Regions from separate parts of the Homo sapiens genome. Here region 1 is linked to region 2. The links come from fine-mapping of genetic effects on gene expression. A gene starts in region 2. The other region holds a variant in brackets. All regions are shown on one strand. Distances are between the middles of the regions.

Region 1 (10,944 bases), 43 kb after region 2:
CTTCAGGAGTTGCAGAATCAATAGGGGGAAAGTGACAAATATATGCAAAAGAAACTGTGCAAAGCAGTGACTATGAGGTCTGAATGAGAAACGCCGACCACAAGTCAAATGGAAAGTCAGAGCGGAGGATGATGGGATTTTGGAGAGGATGTGGGAGGATGCCCATGGAGGTGGTCATATTTGAACTGGGCCCTGAAGGATGAGGAGCATTTAGGTAAGTAGAGGGCCTAGGGCCGCATTACTGTAGCTTGACATATGTCTTTTCTTCTCTCTAGGAAAATATAGTGCTATACCAAAAGGGCCAAGCCTCTGTTAAAGTCATTGACTTTGGATCAAGCTGTTATGAACACCAGAAAGGTGAGCCCCATGTCAGTCCCATCATCTGAGTTTTCCTATTGCAATTTCTCTCCCTTCACATACAAGGTCACCTGCCTTCTAGGCTGCGCTCAGCTGTCACCACTACCAGTATGATTTTGAACAAGGTGCTTCGCTTCTCTGAGCCCAAGTTGCCTCATCTACAATTTGAGAAAGTTGTATCCAAATACTAGAAGGGTGCTTTCAAGCTCTCATATTCTGTAGATATGGAATTATCCTAGAACAGTGAGCCCCAAAACTAACTAACTGTGTATCTGAATTGCTTTGGGGCTCTGAAAAATTGTAGTTTGTTCCTAATTCAAATTTCTGGGAAGTAGCTAGAAGTCTGCGCTTCAGAAACCACAGTCATTCTGAAGTTTGGAATTCACTGCCCCAGATCCTCTAGGTTTTATTCTTTTTCAAGCTAGGATCCAAAAAAGTAGCTCTGGAGTACATTTTCACAGCGTTTACTGAACTTTATTTAATATTGTGTTCTTTCGGCTTCTATCAGGTTCGCTATAGAGAACACGTACCATTCAACAGACATTTGTGATCTGTTTTGTGTCAGTCACTGTCCTGGGTACCAGGAACAATTAGTGAACATTCCCTGTCCTCAGGTTGCTTACTATCTAATGTAAGAGACAGAAAGATAAAAATAATATGGTGAATACAATGATTAGAGATATACACAGGCTGTGTTAAAGATATACAACACAGGGACTTTGGGACCAGCTTTTAAGGTGGCAAGGGCTGTCAGAGGAAGCTTCCTGAGGCTGAAGACGGGACTACTAGATGGATGTTTCCAAATATTTGGTGGATCAATTTTTTTTCAGGGAAACACATATACAAGTTTATTAATAAAGAATATAATAAAAGACACAGATGAAGAGATACACAAGGCAAAGTATTGAGAAGGGGTGTGAAGCTTCCATGCCCTCTTGGGGGCACGCCACCCTCCCAACACCACGTTTCCCATACCCTGGAAGCTCTCTGAATCCTGCAGCTTGGGGATTTTTATGAAGGCGTCATCACATAGTCATTGAAGTTATTAACTCAATCTCTAGCCCCTTCCCCCTTCCTAGAAGAAAGGAGTTAGAACTGAAAGTTCCAAGTTTCTAATCATGGCTTAGTCTTTCTGGCAACCAGCCCCTATTCAGGAGCCCACCAAGAGTCATCTCATTAGAACAAAGAGAGTCCTATCACCTAAGAAGTTCCAAAGGATTAGGAGCTCTGTGTCAGAAGCCAGGATAAAAGGTCAATTATTAGAACAAGAGATACATGTAGAACCCCTATCACTCAAGAAATTAAAAAGGTTTTAGGAGCTCTGTTCCAAAAACTAGGGGTAAAGTCCTATATCTATTTCTTATTGTGTCTCACACATGCTCATATACAAGCATGTATATTATTAGTTTGAAGAAAAAAATAAGTCAATGCACCACATACAGTGTTAGCCATTCACTCTCACACACTGTTGGAGGAACTGTGAATTCATATTATCTTTTGGGAGGATACTTTTGCATCTGTAACCAAACATTTCACTCTAAACCTTCAAAAATTATAAATTCCCCTCTGAAGAACCTCTCCTACAGATTACAGATGTTCTCATAGAATGTACATCTTCACTACTGCACTGTTAGCTAGCACAACATTGGAACCAACCTAAACATCTACAAATGAAGAAGGGTTTAATAAATTAACGCTGTAATACCACGCAGCTATTTGAAAAGAGAGATTTAAATGTAATGGCCTAGACAGATGTCCATGATGAAGTAAGTGGAAAAAAAACTGAATAATGAAACTTTTGACATGTAAATGTATAAATATAAAGAAGATATAAAAGGATTTGCACCACACTGTTAAAAGTGGTTATCACTGGAGATGAGCCTGGAAGAGCTTAGGGTTGAATTTTCAACTTTTACTTTACATATATATCTTTTTTTTAGTAAGGATATGGATGATTTTCAAAATTTTCTCTTGGATTTTCAATTTTTAAAATTTTTTTAAATTAAATAATTTGGTGTCTTTAATTTGCTAAAGATTTACATAAGATTTCCATATGTCTAGTCTTAAGTGAGACCAGTCTGTAGGGTTTGTGTGTGTGTGTGTGTGTGTGTGTGTGTGTGTGTATCTTTGTCCTGTTTGAATACCAAAGTTGCATCTTGAAAAAATGAATTGATCATTTTCTATTTTCTGTTCCTTCAAAGTCTGAACAAAATAGGAATCATTTTATTTTCACAAGGCCTCTTAGAACCTAATTGGAAAGTTATCTGCATGTTGCATCTTTCTCAAGGGTAGTTCTTGAACCACTTTTCTACTTCTTTCATAGGCTGATATCCAGACTCCCTTTTGTAATTAAGTTCAGCTTTCATATCTGTATGAACTTATTTTTCAGAAAAGTTTTACTTACTCTGCTGTTCATGTCTTCAATCTGCTTTGCTTGCTGAATTCTCCTCATTTCTAAGACCTGCTCTCTTTTCTTTTGCAACCATGCTTTAAATACTATGCCATTCTCCCTCTTTTTTTCTTCCTCTTCTTCTATTTTCTGTTGCTCTTCCTCTCTTTTCAGCTTTTCTCTCTTTTGTTCTCGTTTTGTAGTTCTTTCTGTCAAGGGGAAAGACAGTATGTTGAGGTCACTGATGAGATATGTGCAGACTGTCCTGATTAGATTTCCCATTCCCTTTACTTCGATCTGAGATGGCAGCAGAGCTTGGACAAGTCTTGCGGTTGAGTGGTGGGATATAAGCCAACTTATAAGTGGAGGGATATAAGCCAACGGCTCTCCTGTTGATGAGTGAGTGACAACATCAATCTTTGCTGCAGAATCTTCTTTCTTGATGCCACTGACACAGGAGTTGGAAGATCTGGGTAACACCTGCTGAGGGTCATTTTCTGTACTATTTGCATTATTAATGGGAGGCAAATACCCCTGACTCTTCAATGTCTTGTAAATTCAGAAGTTCAAATTTTCCATCTCTCTCTACCAGTATTGTCCTATCCTTGTTTATTTCACAGCTTCCATTAATAAGTGACAGGAGCATATTTTCTTGTCCCAAATCATTGGAAATACATCACTGTGACAGTTTCCCAAATATATTTCTTTCATTTTCAAAATAACTTTTGTAAGTATTAGTGTCTTTTAGTGGAGGAACTTCCAGATCAACTAATTTGTCCTTGAGCTTAAATTTTCACTCCCTTTTATCATTCACGGGTTCTTGATTCTATAGAAGCTTGTTAGCTTGTACAATTTTCTCCATAATGTATCACCTTACTTCCTCATCCTCTTCCTCCTCCAAGTCTTTCTGGCTTTCTAGTTTGGACTCCTGGAAAGAGTTTTCACTATCTGAATCTGATATGGGATCCAAAGGTTGAATACTCGGTACCGAAATGAAGTCATTTCTTCTTGGTGAGACCTCATCCTGCAAAGATTTGTCAGGATCAGAAAGCTGTTTGCTGTGTTCTATTACTGTTTCATTCTCTTTTAAGTCTTGGTTAATATTCTCTTCCTTCTCACAAGCCATCTCTATTATGCTGGCATCACTTTTTTCATTTTCATTAGTTAACCCCTCCAGGTCCTTTTCAGATTCATCTTTGTATTCTTCACTTTCTTTTGAATCAGTCTCTTTATTTTCATTCATTTTCCTCTCTCCCACCATTAATATTTCTACTCCACACCGTCCTTCCCTTCTCTCCCTCTGTTTCCCTCCTGTCTGTGTAAAATGCGGCGGCTGGGGTCACAGAGACGGCCAGGGGAGTTCTCCTCTCCTCCGCTTTCTAAGCTCTTCACATCGAGGCAAGGGAGACCCTGGCACCTGCCTCCGCAGCAGCCAGGACCACACTGCCATGGCAACAGCATGCCTCTGTGTCCTCCATCTGGGCCTCTCTGGCAGATCAATTTTTGAGGACATAAAACCTTTGTGTCTTTATGTATGAATCCTATAAGAAATTCCAGCTAAAAAGTAATGCTTCCCACAAAGAACTTGTATGTTTTCCCTTCTCAGATGTTGAAAGCTGTGTAACTTTTCAGTTTTCATTTATCTTGGCTGCCAAGATGCTCGGAACTGAATTCGTAATTATTTTATCCTTGGTTTCTAGCAGTCATTTCCCCCTTTGCATATTTTCTGACATCTTTTTTATCTTTATTTTAACTGTGAGGCAGTATCTAATATTGATGCTAGAATTAAACTGCCTACTCTCAAATCCCAGCTCTGTCACTTATAGCTGAGTAACCTTGACATTTTAACCTCTGTATGCCTCAGTTTTCTCTTCTTTAAATTGGAGGCAATAATACTACTTGCTTCACAGAATTAATGTAAGGGTTGAAAGGGCTTATCTATAAAAGTACTTGGAATCGTGCCTGGCACATACTAAACATAATGTAAATACCATTAAATCCATGTTCTAAAATACTCTGTGCATGTGTACTTTGCAAAGTACCACAAACACATTTGGGAAGCAGGCAGGATATAAACATTATTTTTATTAAATCTCTATTTTGTTTTAAATCACAGAATTATGTTCTGACAATAACCAATTTAAACAACAGAAAAGTGGTTACAGAATCCCTGCCCCTCCCCAGGTAACCAGAAACCCCAGTTATGCGGAAATAACTACCGTGTTCCATTTCTTCGACTTCAGTCTGTTCATCCTCACCTGTTGAGAATTTTCTTTCTATACAATAAGTGCACATGCTATATTGAATACAGACTTTGCATGCTCCCTTTCTAACTTGATATGCTCCCTTTCTAACTTGATAACTCTCTTGCCAAGTCACAAGACTCAGAAGCTGTCTACCCCAAATCAATCTGACAGTTTGAAAACTTAGTCTTATATTTGTCTTATGTTTTGTTTGTTTGTTATAAACTTGGCTCACTTAGATTCACTTTCCTACGACAGTGCCCACGTTGGAGTTCGTTATCAATAAAGCAGGGACAGTCACACCTCCTTTATAATCAGGTTGCTGGCGGATTTGATGCTGTGATGGTGTAATGGGAGTTCTAAGTGCTGGCCAGCTGCACTTCCCTTTCACTGCCAGCGGGGGCGCAGTCTAACTGAGAAGTTGTCCTGGG[G/A]GAGAGCGTTCTGGAGGGTAAGAAGTTTGTCCCACGAGGTTTCTCTTACTTTGCCTCCGCAGTATACACGTACATCCAAAGCCGGTTCTACCGATCCCCAGAAGTGATCCTGGGCCACCCCTACGACGTGGCCATTGACATGTGGAGCCTGGGCTGCATCACGGCGGAGTTGTACACGGGCTACCCCCTGTTCCCCGGGGAGAATGAGGTGGAGCAGCTGGCCTGCATCATGGAGGTACGCGGAGGGCTGGCGGTCGGCTCCCACGGAGACCGTGGGCTTGGCCCTCAGACACGGGGCTGCACCAGACTCGCCCAGGACCATGGCCTGCATACCTTGTTGTTGTTGTTGTTGTTGAGTATTCCCTAAAAGGAGTTTTGAAATTGTGTACTCCCTTGTACTTGTCAAGTCGACATCTAACGTTTTATCATAAATTTAAATAGTTGCAGAGGATGTCATTTCCATCATATTGTAAATAGTGACATTTTAAAATAAAATTACACCGCTCTTTCAAAAATATCCAAAAGAATGCAAAACCAGACGGACATGACACCCATTAAAATCTATCTGATAGTATGTGAACAGGTTCTTAAGAGTTGTGCCATGATTTTACTTTGTTCTTTTTTCCCTTTTGTTTCTACTCTTTTTTCTACTTCCTCTATGGAATTTTATTCTAATTTAATATACGTTTATGTTTAGAAACTTCTATCAATCATTATAGCTTTAAAAATTTCCTGATACCGTAAGCCTCATGTGTAAAAATTTCTTTCTGGTAAGTTACCATTAAAATATATCTGGTGTGCAAATTTTGATAATTATTGAAAATAAAATGTGAAATCTTATTGGGCATACAGCTCTTAGAAAAATGAATAGAGCTGGGTTTTTTTTTTTTTTTTTTTTTTTTTTCCAAATTAATGCCTATACCCATAGGTGAATAATGCTTCTTGCTAGAATGCCCGGGCTCGGGATCAATGTGATTCCAATTGCTTGGTGGTGTAGATGTGAACCCAGTGAGGAAGCCTGTTCTAATTAATGTCGTCTAATTCGGTGACTCCTTTTGAGTTCTGTGTAAGAATCAAATGGTGATCTGTCATCTAAAATTATGTTTACCAGCCTGTCAGCTGACAACCCGATTAAAATGTTGAAAACAAAGAATTGGAAATTATTTGACTTCAAAGTATGTGTATTGTTCAGGCATTAGTCATTCATTATGGGAAATGACAGTTTTCTGGGAAAACTATCTCCTAATAGCAAGGCTTGACCAAGACTCATGATATGATTATTAATTATATCTATTATGCTTTCACTTGAAAGCCATCTTGTTTTGGAAATAAATTAGACAAAATAGAAAAATAACTTTAAAAATTTTAAATTTTACATTTTAGGATTTTCCCAGTGAACAAAGATATTTTGTGTGCAAACACCAAGCTAGCTGGCTGGCTGGCTATCTATCTATCTATCTATCTATCTATCTATGTATCTGTATCTATCTATCTTTGCCAAATTTCTATTTTCCAGATTGTCTCAAAGTTACAGAGAAACACATATAGCCTTGAGAATGACTAAACATAGATAATTTCATTTCATGATCGAAACTAATAATAAAATATTAAAATAACTTAGGTAAAAATAGCTGTGGTGGAATGAACACTGGCCTGCGAGTCATTAAACCTGGGGTCTTAGTCCTGGCTCTGTCTTTTTGACTAGGCATTTCCCAGCTCTGGACTATAAAATGAGGGGAGCAGAGAAGATGGCTTCTAAGGTTGATAATGAATGATTTTATAAAGCATCCCCAGACCACTCCTGCTTCCAATACCAAAGAGAACGGGGCCTATGTTTCAAATTTCCTACAGCCCCAGAACTGACTCAGCTTCCTCTTGACCTCAGTGTCAAAGGGTCTGAGGAACAGAAGAGCAGGATAATGGATGGATTATGGGTGGGAACCGAGCAGCAAGGGCAGGTGACCCACACTGTAATTTCCTTATCTCTGTGTGCCCCTCTAAGTTGCAGTAGGAAAAGATGAACAAGTAGGTGCTACACTTTTCTTTTCAAGAAGGTATTTTGTCTTATAATTGTCTGATGCTCATCCGGTGATTTTCATCTTTTCTTCTCCCTTTCCAGTGCTCCATGGTGGGATATATCATTCTTTAATTCTGACATGGCAGCATGTGTACTAGTTTATTTGCTTTGACAATGACATCTGGCTGCTATCAAGGGTGGTGGCCCACCCCTAGTTGGTGCTGATGTTTGTGTAGAATAACATGGCCAGTGTTGATTCTTAGGATATGAAACCAGCCCTGGATTAGGAGTTAAAAGGCCCAGGCTCTGGGTTTGCTCTGCTACTGACCAGATGTTATTACTTAATGCTTTGAATCCTTATCTGTAGAAGGCAAAGCTTGGCCAAAGTACGCTCCACCCCTCAGCCTTTGAATCTGTGCTCCCACAAAGAATGAACCAATTGAATTATCCTTATTAAGGTGCTGGGTCTGCCGCCAGCCGGCTTCATTCAGACAGCCTCCAGGAGACAGACATTCTTTGGTAAGTCCTAGTGTGTCTCATGAGGTGTCACAGGCCTTGAAGACACCTGCCATACCTTAAGGCTCATTTCATTCTTTTCCCCTGGCCACATACCAAAGGGCTGTGATTAAGAGCGTCTTTCAGAGAAGTAAAAGATAATGAGCAGGGGAATCGGATAGCATGTTGGAGATGGGATGGGGGAGTCACAGTGGGAACAGGGTCTTGACAGTAAAAATGCTCAGGAGGAGGAGAATAGCCAGGTCCCTGCTCAGAAGAGCTATCAGCAAATATTGCAACCTCAAAATATTGTAACTGCATCCTCTCCCGGAAGTTCTCCCCACTCTCCCAAGCAACTTGCCCTCTCACACTATGCACTGTGCAGGGAAATCAAAGAGCAGAAGCTTCATTTCAAGAATAGTGGAAAATTCCATTGCTGCATTATTGTTTCCCCTGCTAAAATTCTTCTTATCCTCCAGACCTTACTGTGCCAGGTTCATTGCCAATGGTTAAGCAAGGACTTAGTTTTGCTTTGATGTGTTGTGGCTGGTAGTTATGTACGTGTCATCTGTCTGATTGTTGGGAGTAAACTTCGTCCACAGTCCAGGCTGCCCCTCTCCTCATAATTCCCAGAATTCTGGATTTTTATGATCCTCCGCCTTTCTATTTAAGTGGTCCTATACAAGATGGAAGGATGGGTCGACAAGGTATCAACTGAGGCAGGGCTTTCAACGTACACGCACCAAAAAGATGCAGCAAATCTCATACCTAAAATCCCTTTAAAGAACCACAGGAAGCTAAGAGTCCCAGATAGAAACAGCCAGAGTGGGCTGAAGGTCAGCAAAGTGGAGCAAAGCCAAATAGGAGGAAAAGGGAACTCCACAGACAGGGACTCCATGCTACCTGGAGTGACATTTCTGACCAGCCATTGTTGTCAGGTCGGTTCATGGACTCCCTCTGACCACACAATCCCAGACATTCCTGGCCCTCCCACCTCTGATTTTCAACTGCGAGCAGCTTCTGAATATGTATGCAAATCACACAATTTCTGTTCACAACTTGCTCCATCAGTAGGAAGGTCCAAAACACTCTCGTGGGGAGATCCTTTAGGATAAAAGGGTTTGGGTCATGCTGGTCAGTATGAACTGATTCAGCCATGTGGGGGTTATAATTTGTCTATTTCTGTACCATTTGGTAAAAAGCCACAGCCCTGAGCCCTGCTACAACTGCAGGCTCCCTGGCCCTCTCCCAGGACTCCTTAAACTCTCCATGATCCAAAAACCTAAAAGCTGAAGGCCAAGCAAGCAGAAGTTCTCTATGATCCTACTCCAGTGCCAGGGCTGTCTTCCATTCTGATTAGTTGGTTCCATGCCATTCATTCCAATGGTTAATTCTTTTAAACATCATCTGGTAATCATGGCTGGAGCTTTGGAGACCTTGCCTCTGAGCAGGGCAGTGTCCTGGTTGCCATAGAATGGTGACCACACATTAACCGAGCAATCTGGCGGTAGGCAAAGGATCTGGCTGGCTCCCCAGTATAATTTACACATGGAGCACGCGAACTGGTCTTTGGATCCCAAATATACTTTTTCTACCCACAACTTAATAATTCAGCCTTTTGGATTAGGCAGAGTCACTGTGGGAAGACATATCTTGAGCCTGTAACTCTGAACTCATGAGATAGCATCTAGGTGGGGACTAGCAGGAAGGGAACACAGAGCACCTTCGTAGGAACGTACTAAAGACATAGGCATGTCTACTTCATAGAGTTCCTTATTTCTACCATCAGCACTAGGCTTTAGGATGGTGATGGGGTTTTGGCAGCAATATCCATGTCTTCACTTCCTGTGAAAGAAGGAATGTTGCTGAGAACTGCATCTTCGTCAGTGTTTTCCAAACTCTATCCAAATGTAAGAATCATTTGGGGACTTGGCAAAAAAGCGAATTCCTGTGATTCTCTTCTATAAGCTATGCTATGGGAAGATTGCGATAGGACCCAGGATTCGACGTTTTTAATGACGGCTCCTTGTGATTCTTATGACAAAATAAGTTTGGGAAACACGGTTGTCCACTTCAGTTCTTGACTGTTCCTTTCCCAGGTTTGGGCTGCCAACTGCTCCTCTGCCCCGGGCGACTCCTAGTTAATACCCCTAATTAGCAGCAAAATGGTGTTGTCTCAAGGCTGGTAAGATATTATACTTAGGTGGCCCAGGTGGCTCAGGTAGTAAGAAGGGGATGGAGGGAATGACTGATGAGGGCCAGAGTGAGAAAAAACAATTACATGATCATGACTTTAGGAGCTTTGTTATTGATAAGACTGTGAGCTTGATTCTTCTTTGGTCATTGGTAAAAAGGACAATGTAGGATGAAGTGGGAGGGCTAAGGCCATGATCCAAAAGGAAATGGATATTTGTACAATTTCACAGGACCTTGTCACTTAACATTTACTTTACCATTGTCATTATTATCATTAGCATTATTATTTTATCTTGGTTGGTGTTAAGCCATTTAAATTATTTCTTTGATTTGGAGAGGAGGCAGTGGGAAGGAAGTTCAGAACATACTGAATAGTAGGAAAAAATCAATTTTTAAAGTAAATTGCATTCCTTGGGTAATCTACACATGGTTATTTCAAACTGAGTGTGTGTGTGTGTGTTTATTGGGGTGTGGCATGAGGCGAGTGTGTAAGACAGAGAGCAAAAGAGCTACAGAGGCCACTCTAAGCAGCAGCATCATGTGACCACTAAAGATTTACACCTGAAACTAAATACAGAATGTTCTATCTCTACAGATTCCAAAGGTTTTCCTAAAAATATAACCAACAACAGGGGGAAAAAAAGATACCCAGATTCCAAGGACCTCACGATGGTGCTGAAAACCTATGACACCAGCTTCCTGGACTTTCTCAGAAGGTGTTTGGTGTGAGTTTGTTGGGACATCTCTGCTTCTGGGTTTCCTCTTAAATGCTGTACTTTGACACACGTTTGCTGGTGAAAGACTAAGGCTGGGAGA
Region 2 (10,944 bases):
CTAGTTACAAACATCATGTGTGAGCATTTCCCCATATTATTACATATTCTTCAAAACCAAAGTTCCTGGTTGCTGCATATATTCATTTATTTAACCATTCCTTATTATTGGACATCCAGGTTTATTATTTTTTCAGTGCTATAAATAAGATTGCAATAAGTGCAAATGTCCTTATTTTAGAAATCTCTGGGCATATTACTGATTATTTTCCTAGGATAAAATTTCTAGTAGGAAAATTACAGTGTTAAAGGGTGTAAACATTTGAGATTCCTGAAGTATGTATTTCTGGCAGCAAATCTTTTGCTCAGGACCTGCTGACCTCCACAGTCTGACTGAAGCCTTGGGATCTATATGTGGCAATTCTAGCATTTAACAAATGCCCTAGCAAACTCAACCTCTTGCTTTCACAAATTTCACTTCTCTGTTTTCTTTTGCTCCACAGCCAAGTCTCATGGATCCTTCAAGAATTCTTTGACCTTCACCCTTCTTGACATTACTAAAACCCTAATCCAGGCCCAAATTGTTGCTGCCTTTCCTAACCAGTCCTGTCTTTACTTTCTGTCATCCACCTGCATGAACCGTCCACTTCAGTGAAATTGAAACACTTTTTGTCTCTCAAACATGTTGTATGTATGCCTCTCTCAGGGCCTCTCTTAATCCTCCTCTGCCTGGTGTGTCTTTCTTCATGTGTCCCCTCTCCTTGCCTGAGCCCTTCCAATTCTACTCCTGTTTTTCTTTTGAGGGGCCTCTCTTGATTGGTCCACAGTGCTCACTCCCCTGCTGACTACTATTCATAGATTTAGGCGTGAGCTGTGAGGCTGCATGATTACTTAACTTACAGAGTCTTCATTTCATCATGTGAAATATTGGGAACAACTGTAATCTTTAAAGTCCATTCTGGTTTACAACTTCTAAGATTTTTAATGAGGACTTAAAAACTTTTTGGAGAAGGAAAGGAGGGAAGATTAATTACTTGATGTCATATCATTCAAAGAGTAATACTTAGTATATTTCTAAAAATAATTAATGCTTCCCCAATGAAGGAAATTTAAATGGAGTGATATAACTATAGAAATTTAAAAGTAGCATAATTAAAAAAATACAAGGAAACAGTGGAATGATGGATAAAGAGTTAATGTCATCAAGCACAAAGTGCTTATCAAGTCAGCATGTGACAGTCAGGCAAGTGATGTAAACGAGTGAATTGGGCCCATGCAGTAGACTTGCGTGGGTAGGAATTTTGTTGGACTCAGGAGCGCGTACCCTTTTGAAGGAAGCAGCTGCTACTCAGCTCCATCGTATTGTTTCCATGCAAGATTATGGGCTTGGTATTTCTAGATCTGATTGCTGTTTTCAAGAGAAGCCAGAAATCCAGATTTTAATATGAAATCTGCTAATTTTTGTAAGTTGATTTTTTTTGTTGTTGTTGTTAGCACCATGTGAACCAAAACAATATATCTGAGAGCTAGATTTGGCCCTCAGATTGCCAGTTTGTTACCTATCTTATACAACTGGAGAAGACCACCAAGACCCCAAAAGTAAAATTAGCCAGAGGCATAAATATAACAGTGTCCCCAAGAACTATTAATACAACAAGAAAATATGAAGAGTTTCAGTCTCACTGGTAATTAAGGAAGTGTAAATTAAAATAAAATACTATTTTATACCTTTCAAACTAGAAAACAATAAAGCAGTATAGTCTGAGTTATAGGGTAGCAGGTATAATTATTTATTTTAAATTTATAATACTGTTGTGTAGGCGAGCAACTACAGTCACCATCAACTGTGAACATTCATGTGGATAATTTTGAAATAGATGGAAATAATTGCGACATTAGGATAATAGTATAATGAAACTAGTATAAATAAATAACAATATTTGCCATTTTTAAAGGTATTTAATAATTGAAAAATAGACTCTTCAAGGACTACTTGTAAAAATTGCAGGACCTTAAAAATGCATTTGCTTTTTCTATTACTTTAGAAATTATAATTATATGCATTTTTGTATGCCTTTACAACTAGCATTATTTGTTCCCAGCCTTCCTTTTTCAGCTTTCATGGTGAGGTTTTAGTGTCATTACCTTGGCTTCTGGGATGTTTGGAAATAGGCAATACTGTATTAATTTCTGCTCTTTAGAACATTCTGTTCTTTTGATCTAGTTTATTGCTTGATAGACACTGGAAAGCAGAATAATGCTTAACTACCTTTTTTTTGCTGCTTATTTTATAAATTAATCTTTGTTAAGAGATTTCTGACATCATCAGCATCACATCATATGTTTCCTTTCAGCGGCATCTGGAGGTAGCAGAAGTAGCAGCAGCCCACTGGTGGTAGTGTCTGTGAAGTCTCCCAATCAGAGTCTCCGCCTTGGCTTGTCCAGATTAGCACGAGTTAAACCTTTGCATCCAAATGCCACTAGCACCTGAGTGTGGTACAGGAGGAATGTTTGGTTGGGAGAATCACAGCTTTACAAGGGTGTTTATATTTGATTTGTGTTTATATTTGAGGCAGGTATTGTAATATAAAGGAATCCATTACCATGTCCTATAAATGACCTCTAGCCATTTTATGATTATGTTCTCTGTAAAACTCTTCAAGACTTCAATGAGAAGTTTGTTTATAAGAATTATCTTCTCATACCTTTCCTTGTGAAGAGCGTATTCTGTTTTTCTATCAGTTCGACATGAAGTCCACATCACATGCTGTTCTTTTCTAGTTACATGATGTGCCTTTCTAGCTTTGTCTAGTTTATAGCACCTTAACTTTAACTGTTCAGTTTTATCTGGCAGAGGAAAACATTCTTATTTCTTTCAGAAGACATTTCTGAAATCTTATAAGCTACTTAAGCTACGTTGTCAGTTTTATCGCAAAGATGTTTTGTATTTTAGCCAAATCTTTTTATAGTACAAACTTAGAATTATTTTACACACTAAAATGGTTGCAGTTTTATGGCATATGTCTCCGATTTAGATGGTTATTCTCTAGAAAATAGTATTTAAAGACATTTTATGAAATCTTCATTGTCAAAACCTTTAATAAAAGTGGAAATATTTTGAAATGCCCTTTTTCTTGATACCACTCATCCACGTGTTCCTGATTGTCCACATTTCATGATAAAATGAGAGCTCCGCAGAGAATGTTAGCCTTTCTGTTGTAAATGTAATCTTCAAGTAGTCACTTTTTGTTAAGTTCTTTAGAAAGTAGTTGTCAAGTACTTAGTCATCCCTATTATGATATGAGATAGTACAGCTTTTCAGGAAGCTTAGATCTGAATTTACTTTGAAAAACAATTGTAATGAATATTTTATATTTACATTGAGAATTTCAACTAGCTTCTGATCAATTTTTAATAAAAAATTTTCAAATCATGTTAGCTGTTAAAAAATGTATAATAACTCAGTTTTTCTTGGTTTATGGAAATATCTATATTAATGTGAAAATAATTAATTTAGAATTGTGATTAAAGTGAGCATTTGTCTATTGCTGTTGTACACTTCTTTTATCTAACGTATATTTTTATAGTGTCATATACCAGCCCCCTAACCTGCCCCACCTGTCCCCTTTTTAAAAACATATTTTCCAGTTACATAGCACTGAGGTACTCTATTTGGTGTAGATCAACAATAAACATAAGAGCCTACTGTATATTAGGTACTGATATAATTGATTAATCATCTGGCACCAGCTCAATAACCTGTTTTTGCCGTGTTCTTTATAGTTTATCAGGGGATTTGAAAATTACCTCAAAGTATGTTAAAACCAGCCTGGCTGAAAGCACTGATACCTTTATGTTGCCAAACCCAGTGTACAATTTTCTCACCTAATCTTATACACCCTATTCATTATACTCTGATGAAAACATTTGATTTCCTTGGCTCATGTGACACATTTCTTTGTCATTTCTTCCCATCTCCATGCCTACTCTTCATTATTTTGCAGCTTTCTAATCTGTTGTGTCACCTTTACCTACTTGTCTTACCAGTTTCATGTTCTATGCAAACTCCAGGGGTCACTTATGTGACAGTGACTGCCAAGTCAGGGTCTGTACCCTATACCATGCTCTTGACAACAGAACCTGTGGATGGTCCACTGACAATTTGATGTAGCAGATCAGTTGTTAAATTCAACGTCTCCTCCTACCCCTGACATCTCTCCTGTGTTTTCTGTTGGTAAATGAATGGCACCACCATCACTGCAGGTGCCAAAGGTGTCATCCTGGGATTGAGTCTTCTCTCGACTTTCACATCCAGTCACCAAGTCTTACTCCATTTCCTAAATTTCTCAAAACTACTCTTCCATGTGCTCTCCCTTACTCTGAAACATCATCACTCACTATTTCTAACAGGCATCCTTGCCTTGATTCTTAACCTACTCGGGCCTACTTCCATTGTTATTGCCACAGAGGGTTTTATAAAATAAAGTCAGCATGAACACCCCTCTGCAGTCTGCACATACACACCTTACCCTGGTCGAGTTCATAGCCTACTTGGTGTCTGACTCCCCCTTTCCTGCTGCTTCAACCTTGTCTCTGCCCACGTGCAACTTTGATCCCTGCCCCACTAAACTGGGTGCTGGCACAATGGTACCAAGCTTTTCTATGGCTCTGGCCTTCAGAATAGGACTTGCCTCCTTTACGTAGACAACTACTGCCTGTCCTTGAAGACTCAGATTCAACTCAGCTCTTTCAGAAAGCTTCATTTGAATGTCTTTTCTGCCTGGACCAGACTGTGCACCTCCAGGTCAACCTACTGCCACTCAATTACAAATTTCCCTTTTCATGCTTTCTACAATCTGGTGCAGAGTAAGCACTCAAAAAGTGTTCAGCTGATATATGGATTTTACCCAGAACTTTTGCTATGTACTTACTTTTTTTCTTTTTCTTTTTCTTTTTTTCTTTTTTTTTTTTTTTTTTGAGATGCAGTCTCGTTCTGTCGCCAGGCTGGAGTGCAGTGGCGCGATCTCGGCTCACTGCAACCTCCGCCTCCCGGGTTCCAGCGATTCTCCTGCCTCAGCCTCCCAAGTAGCTGGGACTACAGGCACGCACCACCACGCCCCGCTTATTTTTGTATTTTTAGTAGAGACGGGGTTTCACCATGTTGGCCAGGATGGTCTTGATCTCTTGGCCTCGTGATCCACCCGCCTTGGCCTCTCAAAGTGCTGGGATTACAGAAAAAAATGTCTAAATAGAGACAGGGGCGGGGGGGTCTCACTACTTTGAGCAGTTTGGTCTCGAACTCCAGACCTCAAGTGGTCTGCCTAGGCCTCCCAAAGTGCTGGGATTGCAGGTGTAAAACCACCGCGCCCGGCCAGAACTTCTGTGATGTAATTCTGATAACCACATGCTTCGCTTGAAGAAGGGGAGAGAGTAGGGATAATTTCATGTGTCCGGTCTGGGCAACCAACTTTAAGTTCTTTATGCTGGGATTTTGTTCAATTCTTGCCCTATACTTTAAAGAACTGGGGCAAGAGAATGCGAGTAGGAGGACGAGGAGTATGTTCTTCAGGCTGCTACTCTGCAAGGTGGTTTGGGACCACAGCCTGAGAAAGCCCTTCCAGCTCTGGAGTCATAAAAAGGGCGGGAGCCGTTTCTATAGCGACGGGAGGAGGGCGTGGCCGTCCCTTGCCCTCTGCCGGGCTCTCACAGCCTCCCGCAGCGGCGGGCGGTCAGCGCCGGCCTCATGCAGCTCCTCCCGCCGCCTATCCGCACCGGAACAAAGTAAGGGCCGCGGAGGCTCGTACTTCACGAGCAGTCAGGCGCGAGTACGAGGCAGGCGACGAAGCTTCTGGTCGACGGGGTCGTGGGGGGAGAATGAAAAGCGTGCAGAATGCAAGAGCTGACCGGGGAATGTGGGTCAGAGAGAGGCGGGCTGTGGTGCGCGGACAAGAAAATACAGTTGTAGTTTTTGCAGCAGCTGCATCCCCGGAATCCGACGTCAGTATACTTCCATGTTAAGATGCTGTCGCATCGGCGACTCCAGCTGAGTGCAGGACAGGGAGCGAGGGGTTCTGAGGAACTCAGCAGACCTATCCTGGAACTGTGCTTCCAGCCCTCACTGGGACGCCAGACTTTCTTCCTCCCTTTCTTTCTCTTCTTTACTGCATGTCCTCTTGGTAGTCGTAAGTGGGTCCACGACCACACGCCTCGCGTGGATGAGGCTCTGGCAGGCATTACTCATGTTCCCACCCAGCCCATATGCCCGGGCACCTCTGTGCTCAACCAGGGCCCAGCCCCTGACACAAAAGCGCGCGAAGGTGTGTGTAGATCACACACCCAGAGCTGCCACTCAGGAAATTCCCAATATTAGCAAATCTTTCCTTAAAAAAGAGATGAACAATGCACAATTTGAGGGTTTTTAAAGGCTATTCTGTGACATTTGCTGCATTTGAAATGTCCAGCAGCCCCTCAAAGCTTAGGAAAACCGTGACCCCTCTGACATGTCTTAAGCAACGGACAGCATCACCAATATTAATTCAAGCTTCACTGTCCAGGCTTAAGTGGAGACTCGGCAAAAGCAGGAGGCCATTTAGTGGAAAAGTTCAAACCGTGGAAACAACAAATGAAAATGTCCTTTGTCTTGCTTGAGCGATTTGATCACCTACATGTGGTCGGTATGTAAAACCTAGGAGTTCGAAGAAATTCTTCAAACATGCACTCTACCTTATTGTTTCTGTTACTTAAATCTGTTGTTTCTCTTGTTTGTTTTGGTCCTTATGGAGAAAGCAGAGGTAAATCGGAAGGGACTCTCTAGCAATATGCCAGCCACTCTTCCCTGACTTTGCCCTCTCCAACTCCACATATTGTTGCCTGCAACTTGGCTAGAATGCATAGTCCTCAAGCGTGTGGAGGACCCAGTGCTGGGATTTAGTGGTTTTAGCTGACTCTAAGCCCATCGTGAGTGTGTTGTGATGGCTCCCCAAAGAGCAAATGCTGGTGGAGGCTGCATTCATAGAAATGCAATGACCACATCAAAGAATATGGTCGTGCTGCCTGACTTAGCAATGAGTAGAACATAATCCAGACTCTAGAAACTGTAGCTACTTTGAGATCACAAAGAACTGGAAAATAGGAACAACCACAAGGCAGGCTCTCTCTGTCAGGCCTGGGTGTGCCATCACATGAAGAGAGGTTTGAAAAAACTTCACAGAATGCCTGGAGATGAGGAGATGCAAGGGAGAGAAAGCTTTTTTCTACTCAACTTTTGAACATTCAAGAACTCTTGAGTAGAAAAGAGATAGATTTGTTCCTTGGTACTCTGCAGAGGATAGCAAGGATCAGTGGAGGAAATTTTGCTCAATATAGTTTATTCTTCCAAGAAATATCAAGTACCAACCCTATGTAAATTAACAGTTGAGTGTGAAATGGGTTGCCTAGAAAAACAGTGCACTCTGTCATAGAAATATTCCAGCATAGACAGAGTGATTGCCAGGAATACCATAGAAAGAGGATTCTTCCCCAGGGTGGGAAAATGGATGACATGGTCTCCAAAACCTCTTCTAGCTCTTTAGAGTCTGGGAGTCAGTGAACCCTCAAGAGTCTCAGGGATATATGCAGAGGGTCCAAGGAATTCTCTGGCAGAAATGAGTGTGACTTAAAATACATTTAGATAGAAGAAATAAGACCTAGTGTTTAATAAATCAGTAGAATGACAATAGTAAACAATAATCTATTGTATATTTCAAAATAGCTAGTAGAGAATAATTTGAAGCCCTGACTTGATTATATATTATATAAATATAAATATACATCTATTATATATCAATTAAAAAATGAATGTAACTTAAGTTCATTAAAAACATTATCACCTGTTCACAGAATGCAAACGGAATCCCTGCAAACCCTGCACTGCCATACTTTCTGCCCCAAAGACAGCCCCCAGGGCATAAAGATCAAGCTACTGGCAATTGCAGTAGAAATCCTAAAATCATAACAGGTAAATCTCAAAAGACTTGTTTCCTTTCTGGATATTGAAGTACTCTATACACAGATGATGTGTATATATTAATATAAAATACTATGCAGTGCAGTAAGGCTGGCACCTCTGTGGATCTGCCTTAACCTTGAGTCTTCGAACTCCTTGAAAACAAGGCTTCTGTTTTATTTATCTTTGAATCCTCCATGCTTAGCCCAGTAGCTGGCACACAGTTGATGCTCTGGAATTTTTTGATGAATTAATCTATTTTAGATTTCTCTTCCCTCAGCAAATTTGTACCAAGTTTTCAACAGACAAGTCACTGTCCTTACCCCAAAAGGAATTTTTTAAAAATGCAGGATCACCATCTATGTCTCCAAAAGACTAACAATCAATATGAGACAAAAAATATATGCACCTAAGATAATTAAATGACACTAAAGCTCTTGACCAAGTGAAAAAATGGTTTCTTAGGCAAACACACGATTGAACGCTCGAGGAAAGAGAGGAAGGGGAAGGAGAACTCCGATCTGCATGTAAGATGAAATGAGAATGGCCAAACTTTTGGTTTCAGTTCTCAAAGGAACATTCACTCTAGCTCTGAGCTGAGTTTATTAGTTATCTTCAATCCTTCATGTAACAAGATACAAACGAAATATAAAAAGCAGTTTAATTCTTTTCCACATAGCTCACCACATATTTTGAGGATAAAAAGGTAGCATTTGCAAAGCTTTGAGCAAGGGTTAAGTTGTACTGTTGGAAGCCAGAGTTCATGCATAAAAAAAGAAAGGCACAAAATAGTCTTTAATAATCACAGAATTATCCAAGGGATGGCAAAGTTGGAATAAGTCACAAGAGATTTTTTTTTCAGTCTGTCAGTATTTTTGTAGAATTAAAGAAATTTAGACCCCAAAGGGACTTTAGAAGTCACCTGCTCCAGTCTCCAGTCTCATTATTTTGCAGATGAGGAAATAGCACAGAGAGGACAAATGGCTCATTCAAAATCATGGCACTGTGTGTTAGGTGGCATTGTGACGAGGCTCCATGATTCCTCAGCGTTTCCTTCAGTGTTTGCTCCTTCTCTGCCTCCAGCGCTGTCAGAGCTGAACAGAGGAAAGGGCTCCAGCTGTTTGGAAGATTTCACATTTACTTTTTTTTTTTTTTTTAAGATGGAGTCTTGCTCTGTTGCCCAGGCTGGAGTGCAGTGGTGCAATCTCCGCTCACTGCAACCTCTGCCTTCCGGATTCAGGAGATTCTCCTGCCTCATCCTCCCGAGTAGCTGGGATTACAGGCGTGAGGCACCACACACAGCTAACTTCTTTTGTATTTTTAGTAGAGATGGAGTTTCACCATGTTGGCCAGGCTGGTCTTGAATTCCTGACCTCAGATGATCCACCCGCCACGGCCTCCCAAAGTGCTGGGATTACAGGCGTGAGCCACCATGCCCATCCCACATGTACTTTCATAGTCTCCTACATCTCTGTGAAGTAAAGGAAGGCAACACTCGATACAGAGTCTTGGCAGGAAAAATTTTTGTGTTCATTTTTGCCCAATGTTGCGATTTTACAAATCCCATGTCCAGTTGATGGCCACAATTCTACCTGTTCTGTCTCCCAAATCTTTCCCAAGTTCATACTTCTATCCCCACTGTCAGTGCCTTGGTTGAGGCTCTCATTCACTCTTATCTAGACACCCAAAATGCCTTCCTAGTTCCTCCAAATCGTGCTTCGTGATATTGCCAGAGAAATGGTACCAGAATACAAATCTGATCTTCAGCCCAGGTTTAGCATAGCCACGCAGGCTCCAAGACTCTAACTTGGACTACGTGCCCCTTTACAACCTAATCTACCTCCCTGGCCCTCCATCGGCAATGTCCAAGGACAGTGCTCAAAATTTCTGGAAAAAACAATGTTCTTTCATATTTATGTTCTTTGTGTGTCCTCCTCCATCTGCCCTTGACACTCCTGCCTGCTCTGCTCATTCTTCAGAGATGGTTCTACCCTGCTCAAGCGTGAAGGCTTCCTCAGCTCCTCCAGCTGACTTAGTCAACACCTGGAAACATGCTCTGGGAGCTGGTTGCAGAAGGCTGTATTAATACATCGATCACATGCATTGTCATGATCTACTTTCTTCTATGTACCTCCTTTCCTGGATAAGGAGTTTTCTTTGAGGGCAGAGACCATGTCTGGTTTATCAGTGAAATTGTCTCAGCAAATGTTTATAGAAAGAAAGGAAGAGAAGGAAGAAGTGAAACTATGATCTTAAGCAGAGAAGTTACTGGTAATTTTTGTTTGCTTTTGTGCAGGATTTTTTCATATTGTCTGTATGTGTGTGTATGTTAAAGTTAATGTTCCTACTTACCTCCCCCAGCCCTACTGAGAAGAGGTCACTATTACAGTTCATTTCTTCTAGATCTTTCAATATGCCTGTATAAAGACATGCAAGCATTTTGTTTTCTGTTAAATAAATATAGAATTATATTACACACATGTTCTACTGTTTTTGCTCAATACATTATGGGCACATATAAAGATCTATCTTATTTTTTAAATGGCTGCATTATATTTCATAAAACATATGTGTGCCATGAATTGTTAACTTCCCATTATGGACAAGTTCTGATTTTTCAATAGTTATACTGCAAGAAATGTTAGCATGACTTTTCTTTAATCCTCTGAATACTTTCAAAGTTGTGGTGCCATCATCATTTATATGGTGTCTGCAAGAGCCTGCCAGTGGAGTGATTTGCAGAAGCTGTCATAATATTTGCATTGGTTCCTGTTCTGCCCTTGTTTCTTGTATTCTTGATTCCTCTGGCTCTTGGCTAAAGCTAGAAGCCGAAAAGGGACTTGCAAAGGACACAGAGCAAGCGGTTTCAGCTGTACTCTGCTAATGTAACAGGGAATGTAAGTGTCCTGAGACCCCTCTGAGACTCACCTTCCACTTATAGAAATTACTGCTTACACTAGATTCCATAAATGTGTGCAAGGTTTTTTTTGTCTTGCAGTAAGTCAATTATTAATAGAACTG

The links.
Region 1: its variant is fine-mapped to the expression of DYRK4 in whole blood (TOPMed, PIP above 0.99).

Annotation. Positions count from the first base shown.
Region 1 is chr12:4,599,432-4,610,375 of GRCh38, forward strand. It overlaps DYRK4 (dual specificity tyrosine phosphorylation regulated kinase 4), which reads left to right. Exons shown (of 15, transcript NM_001394779.1): 10 at 276-357; 11 at 5,483-5,655; 12 at 7,896-7,956; 13 at 10,724-10,853. It also overlaps the pseudogene LOC103568124. Among named protein-coding and RNA genes, the nearest start is that of DYRK4, 43 kb to the left of the region's middle. RefSeq lists an enhancer at 5,390-5,729. The variant G/A (reference allele first, on the strand shown) is at 5,421.
Region 2 is chr12:4,556,564-4,567,507 of GRCh38, forward strand. DYRK4 (dual specificity tyrosine phosphorylation regulated kinase 4) reads left to right here and starts at 5,645. Exons shown (of 15, transcript NM_001394779.1): 1 at 5,645-5,720. The coding sequence starts at 5,683. It overlaps RAD51AP1 (RAD51 associated protein 1), which reads left to right. Exons shown (of 9, transcript NM_006479.5): 9 at 2,294-3,484. The coding sequence ends at 2,430. RefSeq lists a silencer at 5,480-5,774 and an enhancer at 9,830-9,909.